Homo sapiens: one gene and its partners. The protein of the gene in region 3 interacts with the protein of the main gene of each other region in a biochemical or structural test. Each region holds a gene or a part of one and is shown on either strand. Other genes may lie near its edges.

Region 1 (4,127 bases), on a different chromosome or scaffold from region 3:
TGAGTAGCTGGGATTACAGGCACATGCCACCACGCTTGGCTAATTTTTGTATTTTTAGTAGAAATGGGGTTTCATCATGTTGGTCAGGCTGGTCTTGAACTCCTGACCTTGTGATCCGCCTGCCTCGGCCTCCCAAAGTGCTGGGATTACACGTGTGAGCCACTGTGCCTGGCCCATCTATAGGTTTTAGCTCAAACCTGCACCCTGCCCCCTACCCAGCACTCCCTATCTCTCTTACCTTACTCCATTATTTTTTTTCACTCTTTTTTTTTTTTTTTTTTTTTGAGACAGAGGGTTGCTCTGTCGCCCAGGCTGGAGTGCAGTGGCACGTTCTCGGCTCACTGCAAGCTCTGCCTTCCGGGTTCACGCCATTCTCCTGCCTCAGCCTCCTGAGTAGCTGGGACTACAGGTGCCCGCCACCACACCCGGCTAATTTTTTGTATTTTTAGTAGAGATGGGATTTTACCATGTTAACCAGGATGGTCTCGATCTCCTGACCTTGTGATCTGCCTGCCTCGGCCTCCCAAAGTGCTGGGATTACAGGCGTGAGCCGCTGCGCCCGGCCCACTCTTTTTTTTGTTTTCCATAGCACGTACAACTGCTAACATACTAGATAATTTTCTTGCTTATTTTCCTTATAATCCATTATCTGTCTTCCCCTGCTATAAGGCAAGCCCATGAGGGCAGGAACCTTTAGTCTGTTTTATTCGCTGACGTATCCCCATTCTAGAACAATTCCTGGCATGTGGGGAGCGCTTGGTAAACACTTGTAAAATGAATGAATGGATGGAATCGGGTATAAGAGAAACAACCAGAAAGCTGTAGCGGGGGCTTTAGCTCACTGCATCCCCATTCTCCAGATGTAGAGCCAGAGGCCCAGAGAAGTCAAGCCACCTGCCCCAGTTCACACAGCTGGGAAGGAGGGGAGCCAGGATTCATGGCCAAGTTCACCCATTTCCAAAGCCTGAACTCTTAACCCAATTTGATGAAACTATGGTCTCTCTGGGAGCACAGAACATTTCCAAGTCTGCTTGCTTTTCCTGAACTGTCACGTTCCTGGCCTCCCCCAGCCCCCACATCTCTTCTTCTGGGTGGCATACCGATAGATTTTTGCCGGAGCATCAACCCAGGTCCTGGAGGCAGGAAAGAAGGACGCTCGTAACTTGGCTGGGCACGGTGGTGGGGATCGAAGCTCGACTTTGGAGCGGCAGTCAGAGGGGGAGAGAGAGAAAAGATAGAGAGAGATCAGTCAGCGCAGAAAGGCTTGTGGCTTCACTATACGGCTGCCCCCATTCCTTCCCTAAGCCCCTGCCGTAAGGGAGAGCAGTGTGAAGACGGTGGAAGGAGGCCGGGCAACGTGGCTCACGCCTGTAATCCCAGCACTTTGGGAGGCTGAGGCAGGAGGATCACCTGAGGTCAGGAGTTCAAGACCAGCCTGGCCAACATGGCAAAACCTCGTCTCTCTACTAAAAATACAAAAATTAGCCAGGCATGGTGGCAGGCGCCTGTAATCCCAGCTACTCGGGAGGCTGAGGCTTGAGAATCACTTGAACCCATGAGGTGGAGAGGTGGAGGCTACAGTGAGCCAAGATCACACCACTGCACTCCAGCCTGGGCGACAGAGCCAGACTCTGTCTCAAAAAAAAAAAAAAAAAAAAAAAAAGAAAAGAAGGCGAAAGGGAATTCTGCGGGAATGAAAAGCCTCAAGTCTGGGCAGGAAGGAGAAAGAAAGGAGAAGAAAGCAGATTTTCCATCGACTCTTGATCTGCTTCCTTCCTCCAGCCACTGCCCACATCCAGGTCCCCACCAGTGTTCTCCGGGATGGAGCAGCCTCTTCCCTCATCTCCCTGCTGCCATCCTTGATCCCCCACCCTGTTCCAGTCTGTTTTCCACACAAGAGTCAGAGGCATCTTTCAAAAAGCATGCTATTGCCCCTGCTTGAAATCCCATGTCAGTTAGGAGGAGATCAGAGGGGACCAAACTCCCAACTCTGGTCTACAAGACCCTCTATGGCAGGCACTGCTGGTGCCCCTGCAGCTGCCCTCCCCCTGGATGCAGCATCCCATCCCTCACCCACTGCTGGGAGGGTCACCTGCCTGCAGCCCTTAAGAATCACCCTCCTTCAGAGTCCTGGACTCGCCCAGTCCGTTATGTGTCCCTGCTTCCTGGAGCAGCCCACAGCCCACGATGGACGGATACGGAGGCCCGAGGCAGCACTAAAGCCGGGGTGCCCAGCCTGACCCCATGGGTTCCCACTCCAGCGTGAACCGTGTCTGCTTGACTTCCTTCCACAACCCCAGCCAGTCTCCCACACTCCCTGAAGGTTCCCCCGTAGCAAACCCTTGGTACAGGAATCCCCACCTCCGGCTCCCGTTCTAGGGAAGCCCACACGAAGACAGGTCCTGCAGGCGGGACCCAGCCCTGCCCCCATTTCCCACTTGCTCCCTTGGTCCACCTCCACCCCCACCTCTTCCTTCTCCTCTGTCAGCCCCAGGTCTACCCTCATTGGAGAACACCTGCGAGCCCTGGTTCTCTCGGCAACAGCTTTCCCTCTTATTGTCACAGTTCCTTTTCAGCGCGAAGTTCTCCTCGGCGAGACCTTCCCCGGCCCCCTACCCAGACTGCACTTCCCTCTGTCCCATTTTCTTCACAGCATCTCTCTTCCCCAGAAACCATCTTGTTTACTTGCTGTCTGTTTCCTCCACTAGCCTAGAAACTCCCTGAAGGCGGGGCTGATGTATCCCAGGCATCGCACCTACAGTGTCTAGGGCCCATGATGCTTTTAGGGGAAGTGTTTTCATTTCTTTTCAAAGTAGAAGTGAAAGAAAAAAAGAAAAGAGAAAATTGTACCCTGGATAATATCGGTCTTTGCAGCAACAAAGTCATAAAATTTAAACTTTTTTTTTTTTTTTTGAGACAGGGCTGGAGTGCAGTGGCGTTAACACGGCTCACTGCAGCCTTGGCCTCCCGGGCCCAAGCGATCCCAACCCCAACCTTCTGAGTAGCTGGGACTATAGGCAGGCACAATCACATCCAGTTAATTTTTAAATTTTTTTGCAGAGGCGAGTTCTTGCTATGTTGCCCAGGCTCATCTCAAATTCCTGGGCTCCAGCGATCCTCCCACTTTGGCCTCCCCAAAAGTTCTCAGATTACAGGCATGAGCCACCGTGTTGGCCTATTTTTTTTTTTTTTAATGCAGAAGGGCAAAAGTGCCTAAGGTTCATGGAAGTCATTATGAAACCTGCCTGAGGGTAGGGTAGTGACTTTATCAGTCTCCTTTCCTACTGAGTCCCCGGTCCCCGCATAGGGCCTGCTGTTCTACAAGCAAGTGTTAGATGAGTAACAGGGAGAATCAGCCAAGGTCAGGCACTTCGGGGCCCTGACTCCCCAGCTTCTGCCAGGTCACCCCATGTGTCTCCCTTCTCCATCTTTGAGACCAGAAGTGCAGAGAAAGGGAGCCCTCTCGGAATGAAGTTCGCACCTTTGGGATGAACCCTTACTTCCTGCACTTCCCACTATACCCCCTCCTGCCTCTTTCCTCCAGCCATTCACAACCATTCCCAGTTCCCTCGCTTCTCACTTCCGAGACTCTGCATGGAGCATCCTTTCCCTGGGCTCTGGGCTCTGCTTGGGAAAGCTCTGTTATCTTAGCCCTCCACCCTGGCCCGGCTACCCGCTTCCTTTAGGCCTGCAGTGCCCCCCTAGAGCAGCCACTAGCCATTCAACTGTACATTTCAGGCCAACGTGGTGGCTCATGCCTGAAATCTCAACATTAGGGAGGATCGCTTGACCCCAGGAATTTGAGACCAGCCTGGGCAGCATAGGGAGACTCTGTCTCTACAAAAATAAAAATTACAAAAATTGCTGGGCACGGTGGCTCATGCCTGTAATCCCAGCACTTCGGGAGGCCAAGGTGGGCAGATCACCTGAGGTCAGGAGTTCGAAACCAGCCTGGCCAACATGGTGAAATTCCACCTCTACTAAAAATACAAAAATTAGCTGGGAGTGGCGGCATGTACCTGTCATCCCAGCTATACAGGAGGCTGAGGCAGGAGAATCACTTGAACCCGGGAGGCGGAGGTTGCAGTGAGCCGAGATTGTGCCACTGCACTCCAGCCTGGGTGATA
Region 2 (4,127 bases), on a different chromosome or scaffold from region 3:
GCCCCACAGAGCTCAGGGTGGCAGATCTCCGGTATCCTCAGCACTACCCACCCCCGCCAGCTCCCCAGCACAAAGGACCCTTTCGACAAGACGTTCCGCCTTCCCCTCCCCAGCACCAAAGAATGCCAGCCTATCAGGAAACAGGCAGACCAGGGCCCCGTGGGGGCAGCCCAGACCAGTACCCTTACCGAACCCAGGATTCCCGGCAGAAGAACCCCATGACTGCAGCCGTATAGCTGAGTGCCACCGAGGCCAGCCCGGTCCAGAAAGGAAGGTGTCTACTCTACCTTTGCCCTTTCTAAACCTGAAGACCTCCTTGGTGTTAGGAATTCTCCATGTTACTGATAAGCTTTTTCTCACTGACATTGTAACGCATGACTGCTAATCAGAGAGAAAAAGAAGGGGAAGGGAATTGGGGAGGAAAAAAAATCAGAAGGAAGACGAAAGATGGGGCTATAAAAACAAAACTACCTGATAGTTGAAACGCTTTCAGAGTTGTTCAAATCAGTGAGAGTGGCAACGGAACACACAAACAACTAATTATGGAACTCTACTCTGGGGATCCTCTCTGGCTAGATAACCTGTGCTGATGTGCAGACACGTGGACATCCCCCTCTGAGACTGGCGGTCCAGAGGCAGTCTCTGCCAGGCAGCATTACCCGCTCCGAGGTGGAGCCTCAGCCCCCTTCTTAGAGCTGTTAAGTCTAAGGTGTGGCAGAGCAGACAGAGATAGAGGCATCTGAAGTGAGTATAGGTTTTTTGACTAAGAAAAAAAACAACAGCAAACATGACTAGTGATCTTGAAATATTTTGTACCGAGAGAAAGACTGCATTTATTTGTAGAATTTATCAGGTTTCTGATACCACTCATTGGATGTAAACATTTCATGTTTCCTCACTTTTGATATGAAAGTCGGTAAAATGCAGTATTAGTCCCGGGAGGATGTGCACAGCTGGTCAGAGCTTCCAGAAGGAATATCTTCCGAGGACTAAGGTGATCAGGTTAAGAGGGTTCAACATCCCACGGCCCTCACCTTCCTCCCTCCCACATTCCAGGCATGGAGATATCTGGTTTCAGAGTCAGCCCCAAATCTCCTGCCTATAATTACTTTAACTGGGGTCTCTAAGGTTCCCACTTGAGGGCTAAAATGTAGTTGGGAAAGAGGGCCTACTGGGGAGGTCTCACAGGAGGCAGTGCCCTGGGAAATGCCAAGTCCAGACTCAGTGCCAAGCAGTAACCATCTGCACTCGGGGACAGCGAGGAGCTGACCATGGCCTCTGATGACCAGCAGGTATTAGATGGAAGTGAATGAGAGAGAGAGAGAGAGAGAGTATGTGTGTGTGTGTGTATGTGTGTGTTCGAACACATATGATTGCCAGTATGGAGAATGAAAGATTAATAATGCTTTCTGGAGAGTTTGATGCAAAAGTGGGGGAAACGGAGAAAAGGCGCTAAGGCTAAATCCATCTGCATTTGCTATATTTCATTAGCTAAAGTCAGGTCAGGGCAGGGCCAAGGCCTCCAATTGGCAAAGGACAGTGTTATGGCTTTAAAAAGCTGAAACCCCAACCTCTAAGTAGATCACAATGTTTTCTGAGCTTTGCAGTAATTTTCTATGGAAACTAAAACCTCTAAAACATACAAGCTGGCCCAAATGAGAACACAAGCAAAAGATGTGGAAGACAGCAAAACCTGAGCACTGGTTTGAACCAGGCACTGACATTTGAAATGCTTTAAGCCTTTTCACATTCCTTCTTTATTCCCTCCAAAAAAAAAAGTCTTGAGTTTAATTTAGGTCTATTTTGGCTGAGATTAGCATACCTCTGACTCACAGGATTTAATAAATTATAGTATTATTGAATACATAGGACATCCCTCTACCCCAGCTTACTCTTATCTTTTTAATTTAAAATAGTATTCTGCTACCAAGAAGGATGCAACTGCTAGTTTTAGATGTAAATAGTGTTATTTACTGGACTTTGTGATATTATTTTCTTAACTACACTTTACTATGGCCCTGTTGAAAACAGACTATCAAGTTTTTTGTCTCTGTTCTGTCATCTCTCTTAAGCCAGGCACCTTTAGAGTGTTTGCAATTTGTTCGAAGTGGTTGAGGATCTCAGGCCCTGCTCACGTGAGGTGGAGTGCAGGGGAGCTACCGGTTTCCCTGCTGACCTGCTGAATGCTACCTTCCCCTCGAGTTGAATACACCTTAAGGAAAATGATAACACGAGGGACGTGTAACTTGTTTTGAAGCATTAAAAACCAGCAGCTCTTCACTATGTTCCATATTTTAACCAAACTACTGTAGACTACTAAACATAGCCAAGCCAGAACATTCCTTCTGGATTAAGCCTAGGCCACTTGAGGGGCAGCCAGGGGTGATGGTGTCAGGTGAGAATCCTGTGTCTTGAAGGAGTGGCCTTTACAGGAAGAGTGCCCATGTTTTCACCTGCAGCGTTGCCACCAGAGTGTGCAATACCTCCTGCACACAGGCTCAGGGTAAACTGCTCCAAAGCTGGGTTTTGTGTTGCATACAAAGTCAATAAAATAGTTGCTAATCCTGAATGGCAGCCAGTGATGTGAAGGTACTATTAAAGTGAACAAAAACTAGATTGCAACAGTTTTCTTTCCTTGCTTGAAGTATAACACACGCTCCATTTGATCCTGCCTGAAAGAAGCTAACATTATATTTGTGACAGACAGAGGCTCCATCAAGCCAAGCAACAATTAACAGCTCAAGTGTAAGATTTATAAATGCCCGTGTACTCACCCTTCAATTGTTACCACCCAGAGGTTACAGGACTCTTTCCCAGCATTTAGGGGAACAGGCTTTTAGAGTATTTAGAAGACCAGGCTATAATCAGTAATGTGCCTGGGAGCAGGAAATAGCTCCCAATTTATTTATGGCCTTGGGAAAACTCAATCCGGTGTCTCCTTGTAGCTCAGAACACTAATAGCCCCCCTGGAAGAGAGTGGCACATTGAGCTCCAAACCCAATCAACATACATCCACTTGGCTGCAGATCTGACTGCTGGGTCATGAAGGCCGTGAAATGATGTTTGCCCTCAAGTCACTAGATATTTTAAGAAGCCCTATTTTTCTCCCTTTTTGCAGGAGTAGAGAGATGAAAGAGGACAGACCATTGAAAACTTTTAGATGCAGGAGAATTGAGACTTCCACAAGGGAGAGAAACACAGCCTCCCCAGAATCCATTATGCCATCGGGTTGTGGCACTCTCACCCTTGCCATAATACCGTTTCCTAACAATATCAAATCAGTGGATGAAATACAAGCTCAGAAACAGGAACATTTTCCTAAATCATAACCTAATAGCAAACAAAAATTGAAAAAACAATTATTCTGAAGCTCATTATTCTTAGATCTGTAGATATATATGTGTTGACTCCCACAGGATGGCACCAAGTAAAGATCTTAAGAGCATAGTAGGGGTTCTGAGACCGACTGTCACCCGTGGATCCTGATGGGGAAGAACAGAGGCTTCACTGTAGCTATAGTTTTCCACCAAGTCAATCAAATTAAAACATGACTCATTGTCCCCTCCAAAGATTCATAAAATTCTTGAGCTAAAGTGATCTTCTGAAGAAAAGCCACCTAACAATGTTAGGAGGCTCATAAAGCTCATTTCTCTTTTCCCTGGTATGCACAAATATCAAGCCTATAAAAAAGTAATTATTTCCCCAAACCTGTAACCACTGCATTCGTTTTCTTTGGAGGAACATTGTAGCATTTCAGGAGGGTCGAGAGATCTAAAGAGTTTGGTCTGAATGTGTGTCTGTACAATTCCCTTTGGCATTAAACTCTGAAACCTACAATCAATGGCCTTCAAATTGGTGTTAAATTGGGAGAACACCCTACTGCTTTCTGAGTCTACGAGCAACAGAAAGACTGGTCTTAGTGCAATTAGGCAGGAGGGATTTGGACTCAGAAACAGCCACAGAAGTATTTCTCAGCACTCCCAGTTCCTGCCAACTTAGCTGGAAACGATGCCACAGCGAGACCAGAAAGAGGAGTCGCCTTAAGGTATCCCTACAAAGTCACCTTTCTGATAAAAAGGAGGGAAAAAAAAGTTAGATATCTAAAATAAGCCTAGAATCTCACACAC
Region 3 (4,127 bases):
CATGTTCTTTGGCAACTGTCCACCCAGCAGCCATAAAACTGTTTCTGGGACAAATGAAGATGTTTGCGGCTGTTCTTTCTGCCCTATAAGCACAGGCAATTTGTCCATCTCACCCGCCTGGCACTGTTGGGCCCAGAGAGAAGCCTCAGCGAGGTGCTTTGAGATGGGATTTGTGGGGTGTGCATCTGCCCCCCTCCGCATGTCAGCTGGTTTCCAAGCCCCAGCCAGTCTGGTTGGGAGCCAGTGCGCCTAGGTCAGAGCCCAGAAAAACTGGCTAGACTGGTCCAGTCACTTCGTGGCTGCAGAACCAGGGAGGCAGGGCTTGTTCTAGACTGACCGCTATACTTTAGAGTCTACCCACTGGAGTTTTAAGAGGTAGTGGGGGCTATCAGGAAGCACAGTGAGAATCTTAGTTGAACCTTTGAGTGCTGGGATGTCAGGGGCTTTAGGAGAATTGGGACAATATATTGGTCATCATCCCTGGTCAGTACCAAAGCCCACAGAGCTGAAAGGCACCTGCCCAGGGTGAAAGGCTGGGACAAGTGATGGCCGCAGCATTGCCATTTCCAGTGGGGAGTGCCCTCCCTCTGTGATCCATCCACCTCTCCCTCCCTGTTTTCCCAGCCTCTTTGGCAAGGTGTGTGAAGGGCTCATTTCTAGAAAGCCCTTCCTAGCTCAGCAGAGGCCAGAGGTACCAGGCTGGGTGGGGAGCCTGTGCACAGAGACAGGGAAAAGGAGTGTGGCTGGGGGACAAGGGGCTGGGCTGGGTGGGCTGGAAAAGCAAACCGGGTCCAGGCGGGGTTTTACCCTGGGGAAAGGGCTTTAGGAGAGTCCAGGGCCATCTGAGGCACAGTCCTTACAGGTCCAGGCCCCCTGCACTGGGGACCCAACTGCACTCAGAGCACGGGCCTGGCAGGGTGCCCAAGGGCTCGCTCAGGGTGGATGATTTCACTCTTACGGAAGATGCGGAGACAGACAGACAGTGAGAGAAGCAAAAGGGGAGGGAGAAGAAAAAGACCTGCCTGCCTGCCTTGGTCATTCTTGCTTTTAACTTTCTCCCTAGCATCCAAGAGAGCCTATGCCCGGGTTCTGAGGCCAGCGGTGGCATCTCCTGGAAACTTCCTCTCTGTTTCTCACAAGAATTCCTCCACCCATCCCTATCCTGGTGCCTGGGTGCCCGAAGCCGTCCTCAGCTGTTAGGAGAGCCTTCGGCGCAGAGATGCCCCAGATGAGCTCCCGCCATGATCCCTTCCACCACCCCCAGGGCTGCTCCTCCTCCCCAGAAGCAGGGTGCAGAAGGGACAGGATCTGTTGCCTCTGTGGGCCTGTGTGTTTCTCAGTGGGCATTTTTTTCTCTCTCTCTCTTTCTCTCTCTCTCTCTCTCTCACACACACACACACACACACACACACACACACGCTGGTACCCTGGCGAGTGAGCTACTTTGCAGTGTTTGTAACACCCGCACCTGCCACCTCCCTCAGAAGCCACTGTGTGGTCACCACCTCTCCTCTGAGCATAGCCAGACCTGTACGGCAGGTGTGCAATGCCACCTCAAGGCCAGGGTTAGAGGCTGACTTCCAGAGGAGCAGCTGGGCACCTGGGGACCACGGGCTTAGCTGGGTGAGTGACTAGCAGGTTAGACAGCCTCCCCGGCATCCCTCAGCTGCCCGTGCCTGGCTGGGAGCCCGAGAGACTCAGCCACTCCTTCATCTTCCCAGACGGGTAGGGCAAGGCTGGTCCTTGGAGGGAGGCTGGTCCTTGCGTCCTGGGCTTGGTCTTGGTCTAAGCCACGCCCTTCCCCTTCCTCTTTCTGCCAACTCTGCTCCTGTCCCTTGCCTACGCCTCCCAGGTTCTTTTAAGCAGGTACACTGTTTACTGGCCAGGTGCGCCATTTACTGAGCTGCTGTTGCACTAAGGCCCACACAAGTGACCCCATTGAGTCCTCCCATCCCCTTCTAGAGGGGAAAGAACCTGATGCTCCCCTAATCTCTTGCTCCTCACTCCTGGCCCTCTGCCTGAGTCGCACTGTTCTCCTTCCTCCCCTGCCAACCCCTACCCAGCAGAATATACATATATGACACTTCTCTTACAGGAGCTTCTGCCCCCAAGTCTTTCTGTGCCAATCTTCATCTGTCATGTCCACCAAAGTCTTCCTGAACTGGCCCCACCTCCTCCTCCAGGAAGCCCTCCAGTCTAAATCTGTCTCTCACTGGTTGTTCCTTTGTTCTCACCTCATCCCGTCCCCTGGTGTGAGCCTCTAGCTCATCGTGGATCCTGGGCTGTCCCACAACATGGGGTCTTACAGCTCTTTGATGTATCCCCCCACAGGGGGCTCAAAAACACCTACTAACCAGATTCCACATGGACCCCTGGTGACCCACATCTAACCTGAGCCCTTGTTCCCACCGTAGACTATGAGCTCTGCCTAGACCAGAAAGATTCCCTTACAAAACAAAACAAAACAAAAAAATAACAAAACCTCTGTGTGCCCAGAACTTAGTCCAGAACTGTGCACACAGTAGGTGCACAGTAGATGCTGAACTAAATGGAGGGTCTCTCCCTGCTCCCACTCCCCAATGAACGTCTGTCTGAGTGTGGAAGTGCTATGGCGACAGAAGACACAAGTGGCAAGCCAGACAGATAGGTCCCTCTCTGCCTCCGCGTGTGGATTTGTGACTCAACGGCTTATCAAGGGCTACGCGGCAGCGCGGCTTAGTAACATTAAAAGATTCCAGCACTGCCCTGTGTTCCGCCTCCGGTCCCCATAGCACTGGGGGCGTTGTCCACGTGCACGCAAGGGCAGCATGTTGCTTCATGAGCGGTTCTGGACAGGGATGGTGGGAGATGTTGCTAGAGGGAATTGTGGCCCTGGGCTTAGAAACAAAGGGGCAAGAAGGTCTCAGAAGCTGGGGCCTCCAGAGAGCAGGGTCAGGGCACTCTAGCCTCCAAATGGGGACTGGGGAGGCGGCCTAGGTGGCATCCTGGGGTTCCCTCCCTGGTGCTGTCCTGGTTCTGCTGGTCATGAGGCAGGAGTAGCCAGGCAAGGCAGGGGCGCCAAGAGCACTGGCATTCCTGGTACCTTCGTGAGATCCCGTCCGTTGGCATCCCACCCCTCCAGCTCCCTGTGAGTCGGTGTGGGGGTGCAGCCTGGGGCGTCTTTTCTCTCCTGATGGCTGGGGCCTCATGGCCTGACTGTGGAAGCTGCTGCAAGGCTGTGAAATGCAGGGCAGGGGGGCCTAGGAGTGGTGGGGCTCACATGCACCCTGGAGGAAGGACCACTGTCCCTAAAGCTGACAGGGCAGGAGACCTGGGGTTGGAGCTGACTCAGCCACTTCTTGGATGGGTGACCTTAGGCAAATCACATGACCTCTCTGGACCCTTGTGTCCTCTTTACTGGACCGACCACAATGCAGAATGAAAGAGGAAATGCCTGTGCTGCTGCAAGGGGCCTGCTCCCACCAAAGGCCAGTGAGACCTGCTGTTTTCATGGGTGGGAGTCCCACCCCAGGACTCCCCTCAGAACTAAGCCCAACTATCACTCAAGACCCGCCTCCTCCATGAGGCCTTCCCTGGTGAGCCAGGCATCACACTCTGTCCTCCAGCCAAAGCAGGGCTCTCAAACCAGCTGTGGGGAAGGACCACATGGATTTTTCCAATCCATGGCCAACTGGCGTGTGGTCCTGCTGTGTAGCCTGCACCACGTGATTCACCTGGCAAGTCTGACAGCATCTGAATTGGTCTAGACCCTGTTTGACGAGATGAGTCTTGACTGCATGCTCGGATGTCACCGCAGGGATGGATTCACATGAAATGCTTACTCTCCAGTTTTGTACTTCTCAAGTTGTAGACCAGGAACCAATTGTTGGTAGGTTGGCAAACTTGACCAGTCGGACCAGTCCTCACCACCCTTTGAATAGCACGGGCCTAAAGCCCTCCTTTGGGGCCAGAATTCACTGCCTGGCCCAGATCTCTGGTTCACCCTTCACACAGCCTGCCCCTCCTGCCATGCTTCTTGCACTTGTGTGTCTCCATTGCATGGATGTGAGTGATGTAGTGGCTCTTTCTGGCAGCCAAGGCTGGGCGACGGAAGAAGGAAGAACCCTTGTCCAGGAGGAGGAAACTCT
Region 4 (4,127 bases), on a different chromosome or scaffold from region 3:
TCCCATGGGGCAGGTGCATCCCCAGTAGTGGGCCCAGGTAAGACAGTGAAGAGCCTCCGTGGGGTGTGATATGGGACCACAGCCCACCCACTGTGGGCCACATGCTTCCTGGCTCTGCCCTGCACCTAGCGGCTCAGGGAGCGCAGGACAAGGAGTCCAAAGACCTGGGTTCTAGGTCTTTTCCAAGCCGTGACCCTGGGCCAGCTGCCAGTCCTCCCTGGGCCCAGTTTCCTCCCCCTGGCTGATGGAAGGTGGGGCTAGCTTGCCTCTGGGTTCCGGCGTCTGGGAAGAGGCCACCATGCCCAGCCCCAGGTGCTTCCGCCCCTCCACCCACGCCCACCCACCTTGGGATGGATCTTGATGGTGGCAATGTCCGACTTCTTGTCGATGTCTTTGATGGTGGCCTCATAGGAGTCCCCATTCTGTAGCTGCACCTTGAGCTGCTGCCTGCCCGGGGCAGCACTGTTGCTGGACACCACGTGGGCATTGGTGATGATCAGGCCGGCCTCTGACATGATGAAGCCAGAACCGCTGGACAGGGGCACGTTGCGGCCAAACAGCGGGTGTCTGCAGCCAGGGAGACACAGGCGGGCATTTAGGGTGGGGCTAGGACGCGGGGGAGTCAGGCGCAGTGGTGGGGCTGGTCAGCGAGGAGCAGAGCCAGTGTGTGGCTGACAGAACACAGGTCTGGAGTCCCTCAAGCTCCCATTTGAATCCTGGCCCTGTGACCTGGCCAAGTCACCGGCGCCTGCACCCATTCACAGCCATAAAGAGGTGATGATGATCACCTCTCGCTGCAATTTGCTGAGATGAGACAGGCTGCCTGCGACATGTCAGATGACTCCCAGCTTGCACTCGCCATCCTGACTACGGAGCACGGAGCCAGACAGACCAGGATGCTAATCCCAAGTCCAGGACCCACTTATTATCTGCCTGACCGTGGGCAGGTCAGTGAAGCTCTCTGAGCCTTGGTCTCCCCATTTGGGAAATGGGACAACAACACCTCCTCCGCCGAGTGGTGATGCCTGGGCTCTAAAACGCCTCTCAACAAACAGGACAATAATTGGCCCTAGGGGAAAAGCCCCATTGCACACACAGCATCCTGCAGGGCTGCAGCAGGTACCCAGGAAGGGAGGCTCCCCAGAGGCTGGGGCAGATTCCTGATCATCCCGACAGGGTGAGTGCTGGGAGGGCTGAGAAGGCTTATTCCCACCTCCCTCTACCCTCACCCCCAGGCTAGCTGCCTAAAGCCCCAAATGTGGCAGTGCTGGCAGCAGGCAGATGCAGGACCCGAGCCCTGGACACCCCGAGGGCAGGGGTGCAGAGGCACAGATGAGGCCAGCCTGGGCCCTGCCCTCTGTGAACGGTGTGGAGCTGGCCTGGGTTTGCATTGGTGTCTGCCGATGGGCAACAATCCCCAGTTCTCACCAGAGCTCTCTGAGTAGAAACCACAGCCCCACATCCAGCAGGGGAGGAGGCTGAATGCCAGACACAGCCTGGGACCTTCTCCAGGGTGGGAACCTTCGGGACCCCAGCGTGGGGCCCAGCCCAGAGCAGGTACTCACTCCCTGAGGCTGCTTAGTAGAGATGAGCAAGGAAAATGTGCGAGGGACAAAGTATGGAGGGATGGAAACGTCTGGCACGTGCAGGCAGGTGAGAGCAAGAGACAAAGCATGGAGGGATGGGAGCGTCTGGCACGTGCAGGGAGGTGACAGTCTCTGCAAAGTACAGGAGCTTCGCTGTGACCCACAGGACCAGAGATGGCAGCGAATGCCACCCTGTGCTCCCTCTGAGGCAGGCAGGCCATTGAATGCTCATGGGCACCCTGCAAGGGGGGTGCTGTGGTGAGCTGTATCCCTGCCAAGAGATACGGCCAAGTCCTAACCCCATGTGACTGTGAATGTGACTTTATTTGGAAACAGGGTCTTTGCAGGTGTCCTGAAGTTACGGTGACATCAGAGTGTGTCTGTGTTGTCTTTAAGGGAGGGAAGTCCAGTCTCACAGAGGGGAAGGCCATGAGATGATGGAGACAGAGCAGAGAGAGGGGTCTAAGGGCCGAGGCGTACCAAGGACTGCGGAAAACACTAGAGCCAGTAGAGGGGCCTGGGACACTCCCCCAACATCCCCCAGAAGAAAGCAGCCCTGCTTGATTAGGACCTTGACACCTTGATTAGGACTTCCAGCCTCCAGAACCATGGGAGCAAACATCTCTGTCATTTTAAGCCATGCAGTCTGTGGTACTTTGTTATGGCAGCCACAAGAAACTACTGTCGTCCCTAACTCTCAGGTCTTTATGGTGGGAAAACTGAGTCCCGAGACGCTGAACTACTTGCCTAGGTCAGGCGGGCAGGCAAAGGGCAAAGCAGGGGTCTGCCCCAGGCAGCCTGGGCATCTGGCCACTTGGCCACCCCACACGGTGACCCCAGCATCTGTCCACTCACATCCGCAGCCAGCTTCTGCCACACCCACTCCGTGTGTGCCCCAGAGTAGGAACTGCACCTGTTTTGCCTGCGGAAGCCCCAGGGTGCCTCACAGGGCCAGGCACCTGCGGGGTCTGCAGAAAATGCCCGCGGCTGCCCACTGGCCTCCATGCCCACACTCAGACCTCAGGTCAGGGGTCACAGCCGGGAGGCCTGTGCTGGAAAAGCATCTGTCTCATCTTTGCTGGGTCTCACCCACCCACTCAGAGCATCAGTCACTGGAGGCTCTGAGGGCAGAAACGGCCTCCCAGCCGGGCTGGAGTCAGTAATTAGTTGGTTCAGAGCCTGGTGGCTGGGGCCTTCCAGAAAGATGCTGCCCCCATCCCTACCTCCTGGAAGGCCAGCAACGTGCCACTTAGTGCATCCAGTTATAATTTCCTCAATGACATGTCTCAGGGCCCGGGGCTCGAGGGAAGGGCAGTGAGGGGTCAGTGTGCTGCCAAGGGGGCAGTGAGAGGTCCATCAGCACGGGGCACCGGACAGGGTGGCAACCAGGGCTGTGGGTCCTGCATGGGTGGTGCCTCCAGGGCTGTTTTGAGAAACATGGGCTACACAGCCCACAGCCCAGGGAGCTCCCAGCAGGTGTGGAGGATGTGATGCTGAGGTGCTATATGCCCGTCACGCGCTCTCACACCCCTGTTCAAGGAGCACGACCTCTGCTGGAGAGCCCGGGATGGGGAGGGCAGAGGGGCCGTGACGCCTAGTGACAGGGGCTTGGACCAGACAAGCGCCGAGCCAGCCAGCAGGGAGGCGGTGCTGGAGCAGGAATCACTCCTGGGATCTCCCCATGAGCCACCAGATGCTCAGTCCCCAGGGCCGGGCCTAGGGCAGTGGAGCCTCGTCACAGGGAGGCTGGAGGCCTCAGGGAAAGTACCGTGAAAACAAGCAAGTCCCTGGAGCCCTGGCCTGCGGCCTCTGGTGACTGCTCATTGCCGGCTCCGTGTCCGCCTGGACCCGCCGTCTGATCCCTATCAGGGTGGAATGAGGCTTGGTTCCGGGGCCTCCTCATCAGGCTGTTTGCCGGCTCTGTGCACACCCAGGGACCAAAGGGCCAGCAAAGGTGGATGGGAGAAACACTCTAAACTTCAGAAGAGTCATTCAGTCTGCTTCTGCGGGATATAAGTCAATCTGGGATGAGCCCTCAGGATTCGGTGTGAGCGATCAGACATTGGGCAGCTTGCACAGCGGGAGGTTCTGAAGGCAGGGCTCCCCCAAACCAGCTCAGAGGGTCTCTGTGATGGGGGAAGTAGGAGAGGCTGGGGATGGTGGCAGGGACCGGGGCAGGCCCTGTGGGAAGAAGGGGAGGAGGCTTTGCCTGTGCATCTGCAAGGAGAGGCCTTGCTCGGGGGTGAAGCCACACGGTACACACCACTTCCTCTACGGGGCTGGGACATCCCGCTTCCCTATTGACCGACTCCACTCATTCATTCATTCTTTTACTCATCCATTGGACACTCACTCATTCCCTCCCTCACTCATTCATTCTGCCACTTCCTTCACTAACTCATTCCTCCCCTCACTCATCCATGCACTGATTCGTGCGTTCACTCACCCATCCCTCATTCCTCCCCGCTCCGGCCACACGGGCCTCGGTGCTTGCGAGCTGCCCCCACTGCCCTGCATCCACTGGCCCAGCTCCCGGGGTGC
Region 5 (4,127 bases), on a different chromosome or scaffold from region 3:
GTAAAATCAAGACAGGTTTGTCATTTGTTTGTTTTAAAGTGGGTGAAATTGCAGTAGATCAGTCGCACTTGGATAGGAACGGTCCCCGTAGAGAGGGAATACAGAATGGAAGATGCAGCAGAGAGAGAAGACAGTTGCTCGAGAAGCGTCTTTGATTGGAGAGAGGTGGGCTCTGGTGCCTGTGCAGAGTGGGCCTTGGCAGGTGGCAGGATCATCATCTCAGGCACAGGGCAGGGCGAAGTGCCAGGCGCAGAGGCAGGAGGCCCTAGGCAGGCGGAAGGGGGAAGTAGGGCCACCAGTGCAGTGGGAGGAGGGCCTCCGAGGCCCATTAGTCTGACTGCCACAAGACATAAGGTTGATCTTTAAAATATATTTTAAAATTACAGCTGGGCACGGTGGCTCATGCCTGTCATCCTAGCACTTTGGGAGGCTGAGGCGGGCGGATCCCCTGAGGTCAGGGGTTCGAGACCAGCCTGGCCAACATGGTGAAACCCTATCTCTACTAAAAATACAAAATTAGCTGGGCATGGTGGCACACACCTGTTATTCCAGCTACTCAGCAGGCTGAGGCAGGAGAATTGCCTGAACCCGCGAGGTGGAGGTTGCAGCGAGTTGAGATCACACTACTGCACTCCAGCCTGGGCAACAAGAGTGAGACTCTGTGTCAAAGAAAATAGAACTGTATATATATAATTACTAAATTATATATATAAATTATATAAATAGATATTATACAAATATAATTATACATATTATATACAATTATATATAAATATATAATTATACATATAATTACATATATAATTTTTTAAAAATAATATGTATATATGTACAAATTACTTAAGAAAGATACAGGGCTGGGCACGGTGGCTCACATCTGTAATCCCAGAACTTTGGGAGGCTGAGGCTGGAGGATAGTTTGAGTCTAGGAGTTCGAGACCAGCCTGGGCAACATAGCAAGACCCTCATCTCTACAAAAAATAAAAAAATTAGCCGGTCATGGTGTCACATGCCTGTAGTCGCAGCTACTTGGGAGGCTGAGGTGACAGGATTGCTTGAACCCAGGAGGCTGAGGCTGCAGTGAGCTATGATGGCACCATTGCACTCCAGCCTGGGCAACAGAGCAAGACAAAATTACAGCAAACTTCCACATAAAATGAGTGAGGAGACACGGTGACCCGTCCCCGGCGCACAGACGGCCTTCTGCTTGTACCGGAGCTGGGTCCTTTCCCCACTAGGTCATGCTCTTCGCCAGTCTAAGACCTCCCCGGGCTCAGAACACTCGGAACAGGGCCCGGTAAAAGGCCGTCCTTTAAGAAGGAGGAGAAACATTTTTCAAAGATCGAGAACTCTCCTACGAAGAGCCAAGAGCCTCTGCGTGCCTCAGGGACTCAAACGGGGATCACGGTGCCTGTTCACTGGCAAACAGGGACCCCCATGTCAGCTCGCAGAGGCTCTCCGCAGGGTATCAAGCTGCTTCTTGAAACGCGTCTGAGAATTGAAGTCAGGAGTCTTGGAAGGCGGTGTGAGGTATCGTTATTATTCTGCTGAACGTTTCCCCCGGAACCAACGATACCTGAATCCCTTTAAAAATAGGCCATTTCTTCTTAGAAGATTTCCACGAATCACATAATCCTTACGCAGAGGCAGGCAACGAAGCACTAATGTCAATAACGTTACAGTTTTACTTCACAGCAGCATTTATCCACTGACATAGCAATTTACTAAACCGCAGAAAACGCCGGCACAGGGCCTCTGCTTGCCCTTGGATTTTTTTTTTTTTTTTTTTTTTTTTTTGAGATGGAGTCTCACTCTGTCACCCAGGCTGGAGTGCAGCGGCGCGATCTCGGCTCACTGCAGCCTCCGCCTCCCGGGTTCACGCCACTCTCCTGCCTCAGCCTCCCGAGTAGCTGGGACTACAGGTGCCCACCACCACGCCTGGCTAATTTTTTTGTATTTTTAGTAGAGAGAGGGTTTCACCGTGTTAGCCAGGATGGTCTCGATCTCCTGACCTCTTGATCCGCCTGCCTCGGCCTCCCAAAGTGGTGGGATTACAGGCGTGAGCCACCGCGCCCAGCCCTCCTTGGATTTTTTAAATTTCAGAGACAAGGTCTCCTTCTGTCGCCCAGGCTGGAGTGCAGTGGTGCAATCACAGCTCACTGCAGCCTCTACCTCCTGAGCTCAAGTGATCCTCCCACCTCAGCCTCCTGAGGAGCTAGGCCCACAGGCATGACCACTACACCAGCTAACTTTTACATTTTTTGTAGAGATGGGGTCTTACTATGTTGCCCAGGCTGGTCTCAAACAACTAGGCTCAAGCCATCCTCCTGCCTCAGCCTCCCAAAGTGCTGGGATGATAGACATGAGCCACTGTGCCCAGGCTGCTTCCAGATTTTTTTTTTTAAAGGGCCATCACCACCAAGACACGTATAAGAATGTTCACAGTGGTTTCATCATAACAGCCCCAAACTGCAAGCAACAGAAACATTTATCAACGGTCAGGTGGATAAGTAAATTGTGGTAATTTTTTTTTTTTTTTTTTTGAGACAGGTCTCACTCTGTCACCCAGGCTGGAGTGCAGTGGTGCGATCTTGGCTCACTGCAACCTCTGCTTTCTTGGGCTCAAGCAATTCTCCAGCCTCAGCCTCCCGAGTAGCTGGGATTATAGGCGCAAGCCACCAATGCTTGGCTAATTTTTGAATTTTTGTAGAGACGGTTACATCCTGTTGCCCAGGCTGGTCTTGAACTCCTGAGCTCAAAGCAATCTGCCTGCCTTGGCCTCCCAAAGTGCTGGGATTACAGGCATGAGACACAGCGCCTGCCCCTATTGCGGTAAATTTATGCCATGAAATACTGTGTAGCAATGAAAAAGAAACATTGAATGTGACTCCGTCCACGTCAAGTTCAAGGACAGGGATGGTGATAGAGGTTGGAAGGGTCCTCCCTTAGGGGACAGGGGAGGGGTAACGACTGGGAGGGGATATGGCACTTCCCCAGAACCTAGAAAGGACCCAAATCTTGATCTGGGTGATTGGCTCCAGAAGGGCATGTGAAGGCCCGTCAAGCTGTTTGTACGCTTAAGACTGTACTGTGTGTGTGTTATACCTTAATTTTTAAAAATTATTATTATTATTATTACTGATGGGCAATCAGTTTTACCTTTCTTTTTTATTTTATTTTTAGAGATGGGGTCTTGTTCTACTGCCCAGGCTGGAGTACAGTAGTGCAATCCTAGCTCACTGCAGCCTCAAACTCCTGGGCTCAAGTGATCCTCCCATCTCAGCCTCTGGAGGAGCTGGGACTACTACAGGTGTGTGTCACCATGCCTGGCTAATTTTTTAAAGTTTTTTTGTAGAGGTGGGATCTCACTATGTTGCCCAGGCTGGTCTCGAACTCCTAGGCTGAAGTGATCCTTCCACCTGGGCTTCCCAAAGTGTTGGGATCACAGGTGAGAGGTGCCACGCCTGGCCTATCAAACTTTTTGATGTTTGCCAGTCTGACAGGTGGAAAACGCTATGTCCCTGTTGTATTACTTCACATGGATTTAATTACAAACGAAGCATGCTGACTGACCTGCTCATATTCCGTGTGTTTGTACCCTTTCACCATTTTTTCCATTGGTTGAATTCTCTAATTTTGGGGTCTGGACACTCCCACTGAGGGTCCAGTCCTGTGCCATCCACTGTGCCGAAGGTGGCCATACTCACTCCCAACTGCAGCCGCCTCCACCCCGCAAGGACAGAGTTGCTAGCTTCGACAGAGACCCTCTGGCTCACAAGGCCTAAAATATTTACTATTTGGAGCTTTCGAGAAAAAGTGTGCCAGTTCCCATGTCTCATTGGTTTACAAGAGTTCTTAGTAAATTAAGGAAATAGCTCTTTGCCACATATACTCTGTTTTGCATTTAGCTCATCTCTCTCTGTTCTCCCTCCTGGCCTCTGAATAAGCAAGTCAGAAGTAAAACTTAAAAGCAGAAGCCTGCAGAACCCCTTGACACATTTGGTGCGTTTGGAAACACTTTGGTCTATGCTAATCTAGGGGTGGTATCATTATTATTATTAATTTGTGATAGAGTCTTGCTCTGTTGGCCAGGCTGGAGTACAGTGGCACAATCGTGGCTCACTGCA
Region 6 (4,127 bases), on a different chromosome or scaffold from region 3:
AATGGAGGGTTTACACTTGCATTTTTTTCAAAGCTCATACAAAGCTAGACAAAGCTATAATGTGAACATGCTAAACTCTGTAAGTAAGTAGTCCCCATGGTCACTAATGAGCACATAATCACTGATTCTCAGAACTTGCATATATCAGCCAGAATCTGTTAACAATTAGAAGCTGACAGCCTGGGCAACATGGCAAGACCCCATCTCTACCAAAAATATAAAAAAAAAAGCTGTGCATGGTGGTGTATGCCTGTGGTAGCAGCTACTCTGAAGGCTGAGGTGAGAGGATCGCTTGAGCCCAGTGAGGCGGAGGCTGCAGCGAGCCAAAACTGTACCACTGCACTCCAGCCTGGGTGACAGTGTGAGGCCGTCTCAACAACAACAAAAAAAGTTGAACCTGCTTTTCTGTGTTTACTGGCTGTTTGGAGTTCAGCTGTTGATTTCCTTACCCCAACTTTATTTTGTGTTATTCTTGTTGACTTGTAGCTCTTTAGTCTGGATGTTAACCATTTGTTGATTAAATACATAGAGAGTATCTTCCCCTTGTCAGTTTATTTTTATCTTACAGATTATGTTTGGAGGGGCGGCAGGAGGGCTAGAGTTGCACTGTTTTCTGTAGACCAGTTTACTTTTATGGATATATGCTTTTTGTGTTCTAAGAAATATTTCTCTATTCAATAATATATTATTTAGATATTTTTATCACTTAAAAGTTTTTAGTTTACTTAGGATTTTTGAATACTATGAAACTGCCAAGCTATTAATTATTCTGTGTTTATTCTCGTAGGTGGTGCGGCTGAACAAGCTGGAATAATAGAAGCTGGAGATGAAATTCTTGCTATTAATGGGAAACCTCTGGTTGGGCTCATGCACTTTGATGCCTGGAATATTATGAAGTCTGTCCCAGAAGGACCTGTGCAGTTATTAATTAGAAAGCATAGGAATTCTTCATGAATTTTAACAAGAATCATTTTCTCAGTTCTCTTCTTTCTTTAGCAAATCAGAGTGACTTCTTTAAACCACAGGTTGTTGAAATGGCCAACACTGGTACAGACACGGACTATAAAAATCTCCAAGCTTGTGCTTACACATGAAGCCTGACTTAACTGTATGTGCAACAGCAATGAAATTAACTCCAGAAGCCTTCCACCTGCGTCACCCAGGCCGGGAGGGTTCCTTCGTTCCAGTGCCTGTCCCCTACCTTTATGTTATGTTTACTGATGGGGATACAAGATGTGACACACCCTTCTTTATTTGAAACAAACAAACATTTAGCTAGACCTTTGCTTCCTTCTTGCCAGCTCTCCCAACATACCCAATCCTGGTGATCAGGGAACTAAAAGTCTGAGGGGGACACAAATGTCACACCTAAGAGGACAATCAATCATTTTGTATGATTTTGTAAGTAAATGACAGAATGCTTTTAGGCACATTCAATGGAAGGAGGAGATGTAGGTCTGTATATGTTACCCTGAAAAGAGAATAAGACTTACTTAAAAAAATGAATTATGACCTGTTAGGCTGAGCTCAGGAATTGTCCAAAAAGGAAAAAGCAAAATAATTAATTGAGAGTATTTTTTAGTGAGTGTAATGTATAATGTACGTATGCAAAGTTCAACTCAATAGGTTATTGATCACCATGAAGTATTGATCATTTTCTATCTCAAAAGTGTAAGCCATAAGGCTGTTTTACAGAATAGCACTTCTGATAAGCTGTATTAAATAGCCATGAGCTTCACTGCTTAGAGGGAGCAGAAAGGTCAACATCTAAAAGCACCTTACAACTAGTTTTTGAACCTGTCTTGATAAGTGCTTGAATTCAAGACTGGTCAGTCCAAGAGCAGACAAAAATATCACAAGTCAGTCAGTCACTGGGTTTCCATTTCTGAATTTTATGCACTCCAACCATGAATTTAAACTAAATTTTTAGAAATCAAGTATCTTTCTAAGTGTCCTTGGATTTATAGACAATGTATGTACAATCCAAATAGAGGAGCTTAATGGAATCCTTTTAGGAGACTGGTTGGTTTTTTTCCCTCTTTCCCAACATGTTTAAGAAATGTAACATTCTAAGTATTGGATCTCTTTTCTTGACCTAGTATAATGACAACTGCAGTGACTTAAGTTTTTGCTGTTTTCGTTTTCCCGCTTTGCAATTTCCTCCTTTTGCCAAAAATGTTTTCCTACAGAAGACTGTCGTGACTCACGCTACTTGGGAAACTCACTCTGGCCACTCCTCCTCTGGTGGCATGAGCTGCTTCCCAGTAGCTATTCCGATTGGATATTCCGTTCGTCGTCACATAGCTGGCTTTTCTCTCCTCATGATGTACCTTATTTTCTTAGGTAAATAATTCCAAACTCTCATCGGGTCATAAAGAGGAGGAGAAACAGGGTGAGTCAAGGTAAAGGAGCAGAAATGTAGTTACAAGCCAGGTCGTCTTCAGTGGCACAAACCAACCCGTTGAGCCCTGACAACATGAGTGGAGAGTGCATTTGCCATACCTGTGTGCATGACACTAAGATTTTATGTTGGAGATACTTCTTTAAATAACCTACAGCTTGGGTCTATGGCTGTGACCCCCAGATTCATGGAGGGGCTTTAGCCATCAGCTTTGTACATCATCATTTTTCTGAATGACCAATCCCACTAAACATCTTTGAAGTCGGCCTAGAGAGGTCCTTCAGATGAGAGAGAAATAGCTGGCTTGTCTGAGTCCAGATTTCTCATCAACTGGCAATACAAAGGAAAATATGGTACAGGAGTTAGTTAGAAAGGTCTTATTGATTTTACTTCTACTTTTCACTACAGTTACAGGTAGAATACTGTAGGAAGTCAGTGCAAGGTGCATGCTTGATTGATAGATATTGATTGATTGTTTTTCAGTCTCTGGGGTCAGTTTTGTGGTTTCTGCTTTCTTGCCTAAATCAAAGACTATTTCAAGTCAACAACACTGAAAACTGCTTTTCGCCTCCACTCTTACAGCTGTGCCTAATAATAATTAATTAATAAACGCACAGCCCTATGTGAACAGACAGGAATTTCTTGTGCAATGTGGAGCAAATGGAATGGTCTCCTTCCGCAAGTCTTTTTAATCCTCATATCTGGAGTACAAGGGTAGACCTCTGGCTTACCACATACACTATGCTAAAGTCATCAGCCACTGCTACTACATCTTGCCAGAAGGTTTCCCTCGCCAACAAACAGTTGAAATTTAAGGGAAGAAGCAAAAGCTAAACTGTCTTTGACCCTAAGATAGATAGAAAGCTATTTATTTGTCTTCAGTGTTCAAGGCATGACTAGTATTTCTAATTAGCCTAATAAATTCCCACACTTTCTGAAGTGAACACTAATGGTATTGTCCTACTAAAACTGTCATTGTTTCTTTTTTTTTAACTGGTCAGTCATTCACAATAAGCTATGAGGGTAAATAAATATGTGTTATAACAAGTAAACCGTAGTTGCAAGAATATACCATGAAGATTAAAGTAGGCTGGGTTTCATTTCCATCTTCCCACACATCTCATTGAATTTGATGGTTGACTTAATTGGCACCATAACTTTGTATGATATTATACATTAACCTTTATTTATGTAAAGTAAAATGCCTTATATATTAAAGAGTAAGTGCAATAATATGAAATAGCCTGTACATTTTAAAAATGTTGTCACCAAGTTATATAAATCCACATCTCTGTAAACAACCTTTTTTAAGTAATTTTAAAAAAAATAAACACTCTGCTTACTACTTGATTTTTTTTTTCTCTTTTGGCTGTTTGTTTGTTAATAATAGAGTAATATTGAGATGAGAAATGTTTATTGTCACCTAAATGCATCAGAGGTACAAAGGCAATAGAACTCAAATTAGCCACCCTTTTCCAGGCCACACTCACAATCTTGACACAATCCAAAACTTTTCCACCTCTAAATCTTTCTTACAATTGAACATCCTACTCTTTTACCACACGCTCCCAGCCTCCTGGTCACTTCCTCCCACGTCTTCACTTTCAAAAAGCCCTTGACAGTTTTCTCCCTATCAGAACTCCACCCTTCCATTCCCTTCTCAGACCAGAACCCTAGCGTAGCACAGCAAACTCTGCCCAGCCCACAGGCTTAGATCCCTTGCCCC
Region 7 (4,127 bases), on a different chromosome or scaffold from region 3:
ATCTGGGAGAAGGGGCCGGGCGTGCATGCGGTGGGGGTACCTCAGGTAGCCAAGGCCCAGGAGGCTGCTGCCATTCACCTCCAGGATACGGTCCCCCAGCGACAGGCGCCCGTCGGCCGCTGCGGGGCTGCCCGGGAGCAGGGTCTGGATGTAGAGCCCGGGGGCGCCCAGGTGCGTGTGCTGGGGACAAGCAGAGGCCTCAGAGCTCCGCAGGCCCGACTGGCTGTCCCCAGCGAGGACCACTGCAGCCCCTCCCTTGGCACCTACAGGCCCCCGCCTGGCATCCAGCCAGGCCCACTCATGGTTTCACGCGTCCCTCCAGAAAAGCAGTGGACACCACCGTCCCCACAGGCCCAGGACAGACCCCAAAGGCTTGAGGACAGAGGCAAGAGACAGCAGGCCCAGGGGGCGTGGCCGTTGGACAGGCTGGGTTCCCCTCCCAGCTGCAGAGGCCAACCCCACTCTCCTCCCCGAAGGCCTTCCTGTAGCCACGTGGCCACGCAAGCTGCGGCCAGGCTTGCATGAACAGGCGGGGCCAGGCAGCCAGTATGGGGGTGCGGCGAGGGTCCTGGGCCACTCACCATCCCGTCGATCAGGCCCATCCCCAGCCCGGAGGGGCCTCGTTCCAGCTCCACCGTGAAGACGTAGCAGAAGTCCTCGGTGCTGGAGCTGCGGCTGGACGGGGCTGGAGGGGACTCCTCCGCAAGGGCTGCAGAGTCTCCTGGGTGGGGGCCAGGAAAGGTGGGTGGGAGTGAGGCGCCAGGAATCACGACGAGGAATGGGATGTCCTGGCCTGGCTGCCTCTGTAGGGCGTCAGGGATGGGATGGCCTCCTGTGGCTCCCAGGAGACGCTGTTCAGGCAGAATGTGACCGGCAACCCAGACATTAGGGTCGGGGTCCGCCCATGGGCGACACCCCCATGTTCCCTGAGGGAGCACCTCAGTCCCCGCCCCTGGCAGTCCCAGGACACTCGCCCCTCTGGGGGCGGCTGTTTTCCAGCTCCAGGGACCCACGCGGTTCTGTGCCACCTCCTCAGCAATCTCTGCTCCTCCTCCTCCTCCCTCCACACCCAGATGTGGCCATGTGCACCCTGAGGGTTCCCACCGCTGACCAGACCGGGGCCCCAGGCCCTAGCCCAGCCCAGCCCAAGCACCTGCCCTGAGGGCCACCAGCTGGTGCCCTCTCCATAATGGTGATCCTGCCGTGGGTGCACTTAGGTCAGAGATGAGCTGTGCACCTGAGCAAGTGGCCTGCCTGGGACCCAGCTTGGCCAGGTGGCCCCAAGCCACAGGGGACACTCTGACTCTGCACACGCACCCAGGACACTTCGCTCCTGCAAGGCACACCCAAGCCCCTCACAGGAGGCCAGGGCCGGCTGGGGCTGCCTCACCCTCAATGCCCTCCCCAGCCTAGGCCAGCTGCGCACACACACTCATGCACACATATACTCACAGCCATGCACACATGTGCAAGCATGCCCATGCACACGTGCACTTACACCCATGCACAGATGCACACACAATGCACACCATGCAGACACACCCATGCAGAGATGCACACACAATGCACACCATGCAGACACACCCATGCAGATGCACACACCCATGCACACACGCACCAGCACACCCATGCACCTGTGAGCACACATATCCACACGCACAAGCACACAGGCACACACAGGCCCTGCCCTGGAGGACTCCAGCTCCACCTTCTCCCTGAAGACCCCTGGGTTCCCCCTCAGCACATCCTCTCCACTGGCTCAGCCATCCCTTCCTCTGCCCAGTGCAGGAGTGACTCTGAGCCACTTTCTAGACTCTCTCCCTCCCAGATCACAGTGAGTATCTGCCCAAGACGTGTCAGCGACTGAGCGACCGTGTGGCCCAGCTGCTGGGGGCTGAGCAGCCCTGAGCCCTCTCCATCTGGCCCCGTCTCAGGTTGCAGGTGTCTGTGGGGCAGGTAAGGAAACCTAGGACCCAAGGGGGGAACGATCCCAGGGGACCGGCCATCAGGGTGCTGTGCGGGGTCTGGGGTGGGTTCCCGCCTGAGCACCAGGCAGGGCTCACCTTCCGGAGCTGCACCCCGGAGGCCGCTGAGTCCGTTCCTCTGCCTCTCTGGGAGCGCTTTTCCACAGGGGCCGCCGGACTCTGGCCAGTCGGGGTCCCCAGGCTCAGGGCCAAGTGGAGTGCTGGGAGGCGTGAGCAAGCAGGACGAGTCCGTGTGCGGGGGGCCAGCCTGGGAGCCCCCACGGCTGGGTTGCCTTCCAGGGGGGGCCTGTGCCCAGGGAGCCCCCCTCAAGGGAAGAGTACGCTCCGGGGCCACTTCCCGGGCTGCTGGGCCAGGGTCCCTGGGAGCCAGGGGGCAGCTCGGGGCCTCCAGGTGCCCGTCAAGGACCACGTGGTGCATACCCTAGGGAGAGGAAGGGTGACAGCTCAGGTAGAGGAGTGGCCAGGTGGACACAGCACTCGGGCAACTGGGCAGCCTGCAGCAGAAGGGCCGCCAGGCCGCGGGGCAGAGGTCAGCAAAGGACTCCCGCAGCCTGTGCAGCTTGAGACGCGCAAGAGGCAAAGGGGCTTCCCCGCCATCCGGAGCACAGCCTGCGCTGGGCCAGGACTCCCGGGGTTCCCAGAGCTCCCGCCTGCTGCCCCCAGCCCAGCTTCCAACCCTTCTCCTGTCCTCCCGGGCACCTCGGGGCACGCTGGCTGGGGGGCCCCCTCCCCAGGTACCTCGGGGCATGCTGGCTGGGCCCCCTCCCCGGGTACCTCGGGGCACGCTGGCTGGGGGGCCCCCTCCCCGGGTACCTCGGGGCACGCTGGCTGGGCCCCCTCCCCGGGCACCTCGGGGCACGCTGGCTGGGCCCCCTCCCCGGGCACCTCGGGGCACGCTGGCTGGGGGGCCCCCTCCCCAGGTACCTCGGGGCATGCTGGATGGACCCCCTCTCTGGGCACCTCAGGGAATGCTGGCTGGACCCCCTCCCCGGGCACCTCGGGGCACTCTAGCTGGGGGGCCCCCTCCCCGGGTACCTCGGGGCATGCTGGCTGGACCCCCTCCCCGGGCACCTCGGGGCACTCTGGCTGGGGGGCCCCCTCCCCGGGTACCTCGGGGCACGCTGGCTGGGTCCCCTCCCCAGGCACCTCGGGGCACGCTGGCTGGGCCCCCTCCCCGGGCACCTCGGGGCACGCTGGCTGGGGGGCCCCCTCCCCAGACACCTCGGGTCATGCTGGCTGGACCCCCTCCCCGGGCACCTCGGGGAATGCTGGCTGGACCCCCTCCCCGGGCACCTCGGGGCACTCTGGCTGGGGGGCCCCCTCCCCGGGCACCTCGGGGAATGCTGGCTGGGTCCCCTCCCCGGGCACCTCGGGGCACGCTGGCTGGGGGGCCCCCTCCCCGGGTACCTCGGGGCACTCTGGCTGGGCCCCCTCCCCGGGCACCTCAGGGCACGCTGGCTGGGGGGCCCCCTCCCCGGGTACCTCGGGGCACGCTGGCTGGGTCCCCTCCCCGGGCACCTCGGGGCACGCTGGCTGGGGGGCCCCCTCCCCGGGTACCTCGGGGCACTCTGGCTGGGTCCCCTCCCCGGGCACCTCGGGGCACGCTGGCTGGGGGGCCCCCTCCCCGGGTACCTCGGGGCACACTGGCTGGGCCCCCTCCCCGGGCACCTCAGGGCACGCTGGCTGGGGGGCCCCCTCCCCGGGCACCTCGGGGCACGCTGGCTGGGTGGCCCCCTCCCCGGGCACCTCAGGGCACGCTGGCTGGGTCCCCTCCCCGGGCACCTCGGGGCACGCTGGCTGGGTGGCCCCCTCCCCGGGCACCTCGGGGCACACTGGCTGGGCCCCCTCCCCGGGCACCTCGGGGCACGCTGGCTGGGTGGCCCCCTCCCCGGGCACCTCGGGGCACGCTGGCTGGGTCCCCTCCCCGGGCACCTCGGGGCACGCTGGCTGGGGGGCCCCCTCCCCGGGTACCTCGGGGCACACTGGCTGGGAGGCCCCACTGCCAGGCCTGCCAGGGCTGCCGGGGCTGGCTCTGCTCCGCAGACCCCACAGAAAGTGGCGGACGTAGAGCAGGTGCTGGTAGATGCTGTCGTCCAGGCAGTTGGCTTCCAAGTCCACCTGGAAGCCGTCGCTGGGCAGGAC

Evidence for each region.
Region 1: the proteins of CRHR1 (region 3) and SHANK1 interact in a test that uses a peptide from one of them, tested with the Homo sapiens proteins (one large-scale study listed by IntAct).
Region 2: the proteins of CRHR1 (region 3) and PARD3B interact in a test that uses a peptide from one of them, tested with the Homo sapiens proteins (one large-scale study listed by IntAct).
Region 4: the proteins of CRHR1 (region 3) and HTRA3 interact in a test that uses a peptide from one of them, tested with the Homo sapiens proteins (one large-scale study listed by IntAct).
Region 5: the proteins of CRHR1 (region 3) and CARD11 interact in a test that uses a peptide from one of them, tested with the Homo sapiens proteins (one large-scale study listed by IntAct).
Region 6: the proteins of CRHR1 (region 3) and PDZD2 interact in a test that uses a peptide from one of them, tested with the Homo sapiens proteins (one large-scale study listed by IntAct).
Region 7: the proteins of CRHR1 (region 3) and RADIL interact in a test that uses a peptide from one of them, tested with the Homo sapiens proteins (one large-scale study listed by IntAct).

The regions. Positions count from the first base shown.
Region 1 is NC_000019.10:50,670,918-50,675,044, forward strand, and holds part of SHANK1 (SH3 and multiple ankyrin repeat domains protein 1), read right to left. Parts: intron 1,198-4,127; coding exon 1,101-1,197; intron 1-1,100. UniProt on the Homo sapiens protein: Seems to be an adapter protein in the postsynaptic density (PSD) of excitatory synapses that interconnects receptors of the postsynaptic membrane including NMDA-type and metabotropic glutamate receptors via complexes with GKAP/PSD-95 and Homer, respectively, and the actin-based cytoskeleton.
Region 2 is NC_000002.12:205,615,578-205,619,704, forward strand, and holds part of PARD3B (partitioning defective 3 homolog B), read left to right. Parts: coding exon 1-236; 3' UTR 237-4,127. UniProt on the Homo sapiens protein: Putative adapter protein involved in asymmetrical cell division and cell polarization processes. May play a role in the formation of epithelial tight junctions.
Region 3 is NC_000017.11:45,790,468-45,794,594, forward strand, and holds part of CRHR1 (corticotropin-releasing factor receptor 1 isoform 2 precursor), read left to right. Parts: intron 1-4,127.
Region 4 is NC_000004.12:8,283,001-8,287,127, reverse strand, and holds part of HTRA3 (serine protease HTRA3 isoform 1 precursor), read right to left. Parts: intron 568-4,127; coding exon 345-567; intron 1-344. UniProt on the Homo sapiens protein: Serine protease that cleaves beta-casein/CSN2 as well as several extracellular matrix (ECM) proteoglycans such as decorin/DCN, biglycan/BGN and fibronectin/FN1.
Region 5 is NC_000007.14:3,033,522-3,037,648, forward strand, and holds part of CARD11 (caspase recruitment domain-containing protein 11), read right to left. Parts: intron 1-4,127. UniProt on the Homo sapiens protein: Adapter protein that plays a key role in adaptive immune response by transducing the activation of NF-kappa-B downstream of T-cell receptor (TCR) and B-cell receptor (BCR) engagement.
Region 6 is NC_000005.10:32,107,182-32,111,308, forward strand, and holds the end of PDZD2 (PDZ domain-containing protein 2), read left to right. Parts: exon of another isoform or gene 1-787; coding exon 788-954; 3' UTR 955-3,751; downstream 3,752-4,127.
Region 7 is NC_000007.14:4,799,590-4,803,716, forward strand, and holds part of RADIL (ras-associating and dilute domain-containing protein), read right to left. Parts: coding exon 3,957-4,127; intron 2,407-3,956; coding exon 2,064-2,406; intron 722-2,063; coding exon 582-721; intron 181-581; coding exon 41-180; intron 1-40. UniProt on the Homo sapiens protein: Downstream effector of Rap required for cell adhesion and migration of neural crest precursors during development.